2 linked regions of the Homo sapiens genome follow. The protein of the gene in region 1 purifies or fractionates together with the protein of each later gene. This does not show direct contact. Each region holds a gene or a part of one and is shown on either strand. Other genes may lie near its edges.

Region 1 (7,256 bases):
AACAGAGTTTAGGGGAGCAAAACTTTCTTTCAATAAGAAACATTCTTGTAAGGTCATTCCATTCCTTTGAACTAATAATCATTCTGTGGAAAGATACAATATCCTAAAAGTTATATCTATTTTATTCTTTCAGGAGAAAACAGGTGTGAAAACTCACCTTACATTTGCAGCATGTTCCAAGATATTTCCTAGCATCCTTCATCCAAAAAATATGTATTGCCTGTCTACTATGAACTGAACACCAATAAGTGGTAAGGACTGAGTAAAAACAAAACAGAGCCAGTGTTTACCCTTATGAAACCCAGCGTAGTGTGGGTAAATGGCCATTTAGTTCCTAATCATCTGTATCAGTGCTTTTTAACTTAAAGAGCATGAACTGCTCTGAGTAGCAGATATAAAATATGGACCCTCTCTCTCAAAAATGGTATACAATCATAAAAATTTGAGAAGTTCACAGGACCTCTCAAATGTGGAGGTGTCCAGTACCACAAGTTAACAACCCTGATCTGTATCTACAACTACATCTACAAAACAACAAATTCGAGCTCATAAAAGCCTACATTATGTTTGCTATATTGTTTGCTAAGGGAGTATACCAAAGATTTCCAACAGAAACAAAAGTAAAGGTCCATCATTTATAAGGTTAAGTTTTGATCATCTGAAATTTCACTTACCTAGAGAATCTTATTCCAAATATTCTGGATAAGTAAGGTATGCCTAGATTATGCTTCTTTTCTTTTTTTTTTTTTTTTTTAGACAGGGTCTCACTCTGTTGTCCAGATTGGAATGTGGTAGCATGATCGTATTATAGCTCAATGCAGCCTCAAACTTCTGGGCTCAAGTGATCCTCTTGCCTCAGCCTCCTGAGTAGCTGAGACTATGGGTTTGAGCCACCATGCCCAGCTAATTTTTAAAAGTTTTTTTTGTAGAGACAGGGTCTTGCTAAGTTAGCCAGGCTGGTCTCAAACTCCTGGTCTCAAGCAATCCTCCAGTATCAGCCTCCCAAAGTGCTGGGATAGCAGGTGTGAGCCACCACATTGAGCCTACATTTCTATTTGATCTTTCATTCCTTTGGCTAAGGCTGCTTATTAAAGCAGTCTTCTTTCTTGAAAAGCCATTTGCACATGAAGGTGTACTTTCATTTCAGAACTAAATCTGCATTTCATGACTCTTCCATTTCAGATTAATGAGATCCAATTAGTCATGACAAATTCACACACGCACAGCCCCTGAATGAACAGCTTGAACAACAGCAAAAAGCACAAAAATTCCAGAATTAAAGGGTACCCTCTCCTGGCTCTAACATTTTTTGGCAAAGAGATCCTGGACAAGTCATCTCTGACCTATGTTTCTTCATTTATAAAGTGTGGGAGGAATAAGACTTACCTGAGAGGGCTGCTATGAGAAATCCATCCAACAAAATAATGTATATGAAAGTATTTAGCTATGAAGTGGGTGAAAGGTAGTAGGTTGTTGCGGAGTTGCTCACAAAGCATCAGACATTCGTGGAAGATCATATGGAGAGAGCTGCTCATATAACATCCTTAGTGTGCTATTAAAAATTTTATATCTGAAGTAAAATAAATTGTTCTTAAATCACTCAAGGAATTCTGCTTTGGTTAAGTGGTCAATAGTGAAGTTTTTACACATCAGAAGTTTGCAGAGATGCAAAAATATATTTATGCAAGATGCATAAATATATTCTCAAAGCAAGAAGATGAACTACTTACAATATACTCAGTATTAGTTCAAAGATGTCAAAGTAGTTCCAAGATGTCAAAGTTCTTTTCATGCAGTCCATTTTAACTTTTTTACAGAGCAATGATCCTTTCACTTGCCTTGTTGAAAAGCTTCATAATGTTAATAGGATGTACAGAAGATATTTTAGGTGAATTAGTTCAACAAAACTGACAAAATCAATGAAATCATAGTATTGAGGATTTTAGTGGAAGAAGTGTTTGCTTTTAAAGGAAGTAAATATAATAATACTCTCTAGTTTGAGACATGTTTTCCAGTCCATTCTCTACCGGAACACTAGATAAGCTGTGTAAAGGATAATCTTGAGGTGGGGAAGGTTATGTATCAAACTTGTGAAACTATGCAACATTCACTCTTTTTTTTTGCATTACTTCATTTACATTACAATATATATTTATATTATTTGAATAGCCAAGTTTGGGGCTATTTTTCCTTTAAAAATTTAATTAACAACTTTTTAATAATGTAGTGTGTGCCATTGAACAAAAGATCTCTGGTACCCAGAAAAGAGTCAAAATGCAAGCCCTCTGATTTCTCAACCCCTACTATGCCAAGGCTCTGCTGGTTCTCCCAAAAAAAAAGAATTAAGCTTTCATTACCTAAGTCCAAAATAGTCATCACACAAATGTCTACCACCAAAACAAACTGCAGATCCTTCAATTACACACTTCCTCCAAGAAATTCGAATCAATTAATTGTATAAGTGTTTAAAAGTAATGTATCCTCCATTTTAAGAAAACAATTATTATTAATCTCTAAGACCTAAATCCTTGGCCTAATCAGACATTTAATGAGTGGGGAAACTTCAGACTGGAGGTTTTCTGGGATAAACTCCAGAGAGGAAGGAGCAGGGGGAAGAGGGAAGACTCAAGGAGAGCAATAGATAGGGGAGGTTAGGGTGGAAAGCTGAATGCATGGGTAAAGGGGAGGTCTAGGGATAGTAGGTGCTTTACAGACTGAGCTCAGGGGAGGCTGAGGACGGGGGTGGGGAGAAGGGTAGGCGCGTGGGCAGTTAAGTTGGTGGGAGCTGGGTGGATGGAGATGAGGGTAATTCACGGGCAGTCTCCAATGCCTATCAGCAGCTGCTCACCTAGTTCCCTCCCACATGGCTACTAAGTAGGTAGGATTCTGAGGAACCGAGAAAGTGCGTCATGGAATGGAGCCACTCCGGGGCCCAGGAAGGCTTCAGGATTCCCCCACCCGCAGCGGCCGGGCCAGCTCCCCTACCTCCCATATCCCGACCGGCGTCTCACCTGCTGCCAGGCGCAGACCGCTGAGGCTCCCCATGGCCACTTGCTACTCCGCCGACCAGCGCAGAACTTCGCCGGGGACGGTGGCGCTGGTGAGCTCAATGTCACCCAGCGTTGGAGTGGGAAGGACGCAGGCGGCGCCGGGGGGCGGGGCGTGCGCGACGCGGTGTACAGGCCTGCGCCAGTGCGGGGCGTGTAGGACGTGCGCCACGCGCTGGAGACCCGCGGCGCCAGCCTAGTGCCCCTGGCGCCGCATCCTGAGCCAGCCTCGGAGATGGTCCTGTGGAGTGTGGCGCCGTGGGCCCTTGCCCTAGCGGATATGTACCCATGGGAGTACCTGTGTGAAATAGAAAGGAAATGTGCAACTTTCGTGATCTGTAAACTCCCGAAATACACCAGATAAACCAGTATTCCAGTATGCCGCTCTTCCAGTGTTTTCAATGAACATATGCTTTTATCAGAAAACACATAATTGGACTCTGCTCAGTGGCCCTATCTCTTGTTGGAGCATCCCTCAGGCTAATCTGAGAAATTAACATGTATGTTTTCAATTTGTTTTCTATTTACCTATTTTCTAAAAACATTTGATCATCTCCATCCTAAACACTTTACTCATACCCACCCACACTGCCAGAAATGCCGTTTTTTCTTGACGTTTCTTAGTGGTCCCAAATTCTTAACAAAGACCCCCCTGCTCCAGGGTCCGGGGAGGAGGTTAGGCACTGGAGTGAGAGGTATTAGAAAGGCCTCACTTGCCTAGATTTCCTTCAACGACCTGGTAGGGGAACCACAAGGAAATTGTTTCCCTTTTGTGAAAAGATGGGATTGGAGTAAACAGTCCCTTCAAGGTCTGACAATCTTTGATCCATGTATCTGGCCCAGTTCCAGGAGGACATGTTAAAAGGGTTGGGACAGCAGGGTGACAGGTTCCGAGGTGGATGCGGACCACGTTGAACTCAAGCCTTGCACTCAGCTTTCCTAAGGATTCCCCTCGTACTATATTTTTTGTCAGGCGACTCCGCGGTCACCTTTGCTCCGCGGTGATTGGCCTGCAGCGGGGTCCTCGTGTTTGTCCAATATGGCGGCGCCCAGTGGCGGTGTGAACTGTGAGGAGTTCGCCGAGTTCCAGGTGATGGGGTTTTCCTCATGTGGCAGGCATGTGCCTCCTTTTGTCCCCAGACCCTATTCCCTGCTTTGCGAGGGAGTATGAACCAGCTTTGGAAAAAGCGGGCAATTCAAAGCTCTTTTCTCGAGCCATTGGAGGTCATGGGGGGCGCGGGTTTGGCCTTAGGGAGCGAGGCTGCTCTGTAGGAGGAGGGAGGAGGGGGGTCATAGTTCTCTCCGCGGCTCTCCGGCCTTGTCTGGGAAGCTCTGGGTAATCTGCTGTGGTAAAGCTCGGGATGCGTGGATAAGGATTGTAACAATCTTGTAGCAGTTCCCTGAACTCAGTTTCCAGCTTCTGCCATTCCTCTCCTACTTTTGTAAGTAGAGTTTTTGTGGGAGAGAAGAAGGTGCAGAAGAGCTATTTAGTTGATAAAACATACTTGGTGCAATTTACTATTTTTGTGGGACAGGACGTATGGAAGCTTGGAGGGAGGATTAATTATAGTACCTGCTCTAGTGTCATTGCCCATTAGAGAAGATGTAATATTTAGAGGTTTTGCCTTTTTATGTTCAAATATCAGAGACCTAGGGCTAATTATTAACACCTGAATGCAAGAATAGGGATCTGGTTTTGACCAAGTTGCCATTAAAGTTATCTGTTCCAATTCAGTCATAAATGTGCTTCTGTTTAGTTACAAAGTTGAATTCCAAAATCATGATCTTAAATATGTATTGCATTATTAACTAACCCAAGATACTGAAAAATTGACCTATCTGTAGTAAGCTTTGTACTTTGAACGGTTTGAAGGTAGTGGTATTCTTGAATACTGCCTCAGCCTCCCTGTAGCTAGGACTACAGGCACGTGTCACCACGCCCGGGTAATTTTTTAAAAGAAATTTTGTAGCGAGAGTGTCTCACCAAATAATCCTCTTGCCTCGTCCTCCCAAAGTGTTGGGATTACAGGCGTGAGTCACCACGCCCGGCCTAAAGTGTTTAAAATTTTTGCAACTCTTATTTTTTCATTATAAAAATTAGATTTAGTACTTCTGTAAAATATCCTATTTCCAAATTGAAATAAAATCCAGAAAAGAGTGTTTAAAATCGAGTGCCTAGAATCCCATTTTAGCATGCATTCAAGAATTTATTAGATACTGTATTAGTCCGCTAGGGCTGCCATAACAAAATACCACAGACTAGGTGGCTTAAACAATAGAGATTTATTTTTTCACAGTTCTGGAGACTAGAAGTCCAAGATTAAGCTGCCATCAGTTTCTAGGCTATACAGTTTGATTTAAGGGGGGAAAAAGAGTGCCATCAGAATTAGTTATAGTAAGGCTTCTCTTCCTGGCTTGTAAATGGCTGCTTTCTCACCATGTCTTCTCTATGTCACTATCTCTTCTCTGTGCCTGCACCTGGAAGGAGAAGGATCTCTGCTATCTCTTCCTCCTCTTCTTTTTTTTTTTTTTTTTATTTTTTTTTTGAGACAGAGTCTCGCTCTATCCCCCAGGCTGGAGTGCAGTGGCACAATCTTGGCTCACTCCAACCTCCACCTCCCGAGTTCAAGCGATTCTCCTCCTGAGTAGCTGGGATTATAGGCGCCTACCACCGTGCCCGGTTAATTTTTGTATTTTTAGTAGAGATGGGGTTTCACCATGTTGACCAGGCTGGTTCCAAACTCCAGACCTCAGGTGATCCGCACCCCTTTCAGCCTTCCGAAATGCTGGGATTACAGGCGTGAGCCATGGCGCCCAGCCTATCTCTTCCTCTTCTTATAGGGACATCAGTTCTATCGGATTAGGGCCCACCCTTATGACCTCTGTTTAACCTTTATTACATACCTCAAGGCCCTATCTCCAGATACAGTCATGTTGGGGATTAGGGATTCATGAATTTTGGGGACACACAATTCAACCCGTAACAGATACCTACTAGTCTCCTGGCACTTGCGAAACCCAGTGGATGGAGTATAAAACAAGGAACGTAATCTAAGTAGGGCTATAAAATGTAGAAAATATTGGGAAGAAAAAAGAATAAAATGCTGAAAGAATTTAGAGAGTTGGGCCTTAGGCAGGCAGGGACTAGGGGTATTCTAGGCAGAGGCAATAGGATAATAGACAAAAAAGTTTTATGTATTTAAAGGAAATAGAAAATCAGTATTGCTAGAACACATTATTCATACAGGGGCACATTGGGATTACACAAGATTGCAACCAGATTTGTGGAAAGCCTTGTGTGTCACGTGTGAGTTAGGGAGTCCTTTTTGGGCAGAGGGGTGAGATGATCGAAGAGGTGCTTTAGGAAGATTCATCACTACTGCCAGTGGCTTTGTTTAGGCCCGTATCATTTTTGAAACTAGCTTTGCAACAGGCCTTCCTATCTTCTGGCACTTTTTTTCTCTACTATATTCCCCCTTCAATCTAATCTCCATAATACTGTGGCATATGCTATTATATTCTGAATTTTATAATCTAAGCTATGCTTTTGAGTTTTGGGTTCATATGACTAGATATAAACTTCTTAACATGGCATATAAGACCTTTTAAAATCCAATCCCAAAGTGCCTCTTGTCATGTCTCTTATTATTGTCCTCATACGTGTCTCTTTCATCATACCCACCCCCCAGCACTTCAACATGCATGTTTAAATATTAGTATTTCTATTAGGAATATTCATTGACACATAAGTGATTTTTGAATCACATTGTAATTAGGTACTAAATAGGTTATTTTCTAGCATCAATGATGGTTTCTTTTATGCTTACAGGGCTGCTTTCTATTCCTGTCCTGGGGATGCTGGGTGTTAGAGGACTCTGGCAGTTGTAGACAAGTTTGTGTTTCTGGTTTGGGGGAAGCACCGTGGGAGCTTTGATGTAAAAATAGAGTTTGAGGAACCAGATCTGTCTGAAAAGAGCATCATGTAAAAGGGACTTTGATGTCAAGTACCAATGACATTACTTCTGGGTACCATCAGGCAAAGGGAGAGGAGAGGAAAGGTTAAGGGAGTTCCATATCATTCTTTGGAGTACAGTGTATTTTAGTTATATAATGGCCCCTTTCCTACTCCTCACCCCTATGTACCCTAAAAAATATGTAGAATTATAAAATAACTTTACCTGAGAATGAATCTTAGGAATAGACTATAGT
Region 2 (3,595 bases), about 110 Mb from region 1:
GATGGAAGCCACCTCCCATGTTGTGAGCTGACCCTTTAAGGCAAAGGCCATGTGGCAAGGAACTGAAGGAGGTGTCTGGCCAACAGCCAGTAAGGCACTGAGGCCCTCAATCCACAGCCCACAAGATTCAACCCACTGAACCCTCCCAGAAACCACTTCGAGCGATCTTGAAAGGCCTGTCCCACCTTGAGATGACTACAAGTATCATAGCCTCATGAGACACTGAGCCAGAGAACCCAGGTAAGCCATGCCCAGATTCCTCGTTTCAAGCTATTAAGTTTTAAGGCAATTTTTTACATAAATAACTTAACACATTTGAGACAAATGAGGCATTACTATGCCACAGCCTGAAAACTGTCTAGCAGTTACCTTAGGCAAGTTAATCTATTTTCAAACAGGAAGAGCCTTCCCCACCTCATAGACTAACTGTAATGTCTGTGTGAAGGCATCTGCTCACATATAAAATAAGTAAGCTTCCTTTGAACTCAACACAGAAAATTTTAACGGACTCAAATTGGTTTACCAATATCTTTCAAGAGGAATTTCAATTGAATTGTTCATAATTTATACTTTTTTATATAGAAAACATTTTTAACTAGTGAAAACAAAGGACACATTCAAAATCAGGTAGAAATCATGTTTCCTTTTAATTGAATACTTAATTCACAACGTTTCCTCTCTTGCTGCTACTCTGGTAATAATTAGGTCCCCACCTCTCAAGAACATTGCACCTGACTAGACTGAGAGCCAGTGTGAACATGGGCCCCAAACCAGGGCTTTCGGAATAACAAGGAACAGCCAAGCCAGCCTCTCCCTTCACTTAGAAAGGGATTATGAATGGAAGGGTCCAAATCTTCATCATCCAAACACAGAAAACCAGGAGCTCAACACCTACATGGAAACCAAAATGTATCAGGAATAAAGTACAGTACCCCTTCACATACTCAAGGTCAAGATGGGTTTGCAGAAATCATATCTGACCATCTGGCCTCTGCTAGTAGATATGGCCCCATCCCAGCATTTTTAAGAGATGTTTTTGTTGTATTATTTCCCCAAGGGGTATAAAATCTACCAAAAGGAATATAATGAATCAGAATAAATCAGCTCACTCACAAGAAACGTTCTTGGGTAATGGTTTTTAGTTGCTGAGCTTATTCAGCACATTATTTAAAAGTGGCAAAATTCAGGGCAATCTGAGAATTCAAAAGTGGCGGCCACAGGTTTGGGTAGGACACACATACATACAACCCCCATTTTTTTCAGTGTATATGTCAAGATGTCAAGACCTCAAGACCTCTGATCATCAAAATAAGTTATTTTGTATATTATAATGCACAGGACAACAGAAGGAAACTTTCTTGGAAGGTGATGACAAGGCCTTTTGCAAAAGGTCCACTCCAAAAGGACTGGTGCCCAGTGCCTTGTGGCCTTCATTAACTTGATCCCTCCTCTTCTTTGGTTGCAGTGGCCTCAATGGGAGCTGTTTCTTCTGCTTGTTCTGCTGGCTTCTTCTCTCTTTCCTCTTCCTCATCCTCATCCTCTTGGGGATAGAGGTCTGGGTATTTCTGCATGCATTCCTGCATGGCCCGGAACTGGTCTACACAGTCTGACCCCTTGATCTCCTCCGTGCTATAGTGGAAGCAGGAAAAGGCTGACTTAAACTGTTCTCCACAGGGACCGCTGGCCATTCCCCCAAGGCATGGGCAGTTCCAGTTAATGTTTCCATTTGGCAGTATCAATCCTAGAACAGGAAGATAGAGAGATGTTCTCTAAAGTTTCAGAAAATACAAAACTAGTCCAGTCCTCACAGGCTACTGAGGGGGTGCAGAACAGGAACTATTGTTGCCTATGGACCCACACCTCGATTTGGATTAGGTTTAAAGCCTAGCACATATCCAGCATTCCTTGGCCCACCTGGGAGAGAAGCCACCAATGACATATTTCTCCACGTGTGACACTAATTTATTCTAAGCCACCTCTCAGTGCTCTGAGGCTGTGCTCCAAGAATTAAATACCGGGACCCATTTAGCCCAAAGAAGAGGAGATCACTTGGATGGTTAGTGAGGAGCTTTTTGAAAGCCCAAACACTTTAAGGAACTGAGGTATTGATCTCCTCTTTCCAATCCCCCTCCCCATATGGATGATCAGGACCACCCCACCCCCATGCTCCCTGCCCCCCTGAGCCCCTCTTGCCCTGCAGCTGCTCTCAGAAGCTCAGCATAGCCTGGGGACTGGTGAAAAGGAGGAGGTTGCTCCTTATGTACTGACGAAGAAAGATGTCCAAGACATGCTGCACAATGAGAAGCTGGTGGCATACCATTAGTGCGAGTGCATTCTTGTAAAAATCAACCAAACCTGTTAAACTGCACATATGTGTTGGGCAGGAAGCAAGGTTATAGATGGGTTTTCATTTTCACTATATTAATAGGCTTCTTACTTTTGACTTTTATACCTTTTCTTATCATTGAACTTTATTCACATCTAAATAGTATTTCTTGGTTTTCCAAAATGCTCTCAAAACGATGGCTTCATTTTCAGCTTTGTGAAGACATGATTCATACAGAAGTTTCTTACATGATTCTTATTAAGAGACTGAAAGTACTTTCTAAGAGAGCCTCTAAAAGGTCCTGTGAAATTACACATGATTCTTCACTCCAGGGCAGTACCCAAGCCTGGCACTCTGCACTAACGTCCAAAGTCCTAGGCGAAACCCCGCCTGCCTTCAATTCCAGCTTGGGAAGCTCCACTGATCAATGGATCTGCTGTAGCTATTCCTGTTCCTTACTTGTAAAATGGGGACAGCAAGGACGATGCCAACTAGTGCTGCCCCCTTAGCAGGCGCAGACCCCCAGGACCATCAGCAGTTGCAGATCAAGTTCTCCTGCATTAAGCTACGTTTGGTAACTCACATAAGCCTTCTGACAACCTTCTGCAGTGGGTGCTACTAACCCCAGTTTACTCATGCAGTCTCTGGGGTTCATGGTCCAAGTGAGGACTGCAGACTGGGCTGACAGGATTCCCAGAGTCCATGCCCCTTCCCCTACATCTCACCACTTCTTGAAATGGACCTCAGTGCTGGAGAAACATTTGCAAATGCTGCCCCCTGGAGCTTCAAATCTGCTCACAAACCTGCACAACCAGTTTCCAAAAGAGGTAATACTGACATTTAAAAATTACAACCCAGTACAAATTGACCAGGTGGTTGATTAAAAAAAATCATAACAAAAAATGTATAACCTAGGTCTCCAGGAGTCCTTGTTTCATTGTTTCTTAGGGGCAGGTAAGCTGGAATGAGATACCTCCTCACAAAGCACATGGTGCCAATTTGCATTTCAGGGACACAATATAAATCCACACAGAGGGTACCTTTGGCATGTTACATAAAGCTCAGATGCAGTGTGTTGTCAAACATGCAGTCTAAGGCCTGAAGTTCCAGTCTCTGGCTGAGTCAGTCTCCGCCCCCGCCCAGGCCCCCAGTTTTCTCATTGGATCAGATGATCTTTAAGGCCCTCTTGATGTTTTGATTCTAGGAAAATTAATTCTGCCACCTTTTTTCTTGGTACTCTTAGCTATTCCAAGCACCATCTCAGCTGCA

What was found.
Region 2: the proteins of MIX23 (region 1) and CHCHD4 purify together in Homo sapiens (co-immunoprecipitation; 2 studies listed by IntAct). This does not show direct contact.

What each region holds. Positions count from the first base shown.
Region 1 is NC_000003.12:122,380,055-122,387,310, reverse strand, and holds the start of MIX23 (protein MIX23), read left to right. Parts: upstream 1-4,079; 5' UTR 4,080-4,086; coding exon 4,087-4,137; exon of another isoform or gene 4,138-4,154; coding exon of another isoform or gene 4,155-4,163; exon of another isoform or gene 4,164-4,489; intron 4,490-7,256. Other genes in the region: protein FAM162A, read right to left, coding at 3,012-3,045.
Region 2 is NC_000003.12:14,111,454-14,115,048, forward strand, and holds the end of CHCHD4 (mitochondrial intermembrane space import and assembly protein 40), read right to left. Parts: intron 1,742-3,595; coding exon 1,434-1,741; 3' UTR 624-1,433; downstream 1-623.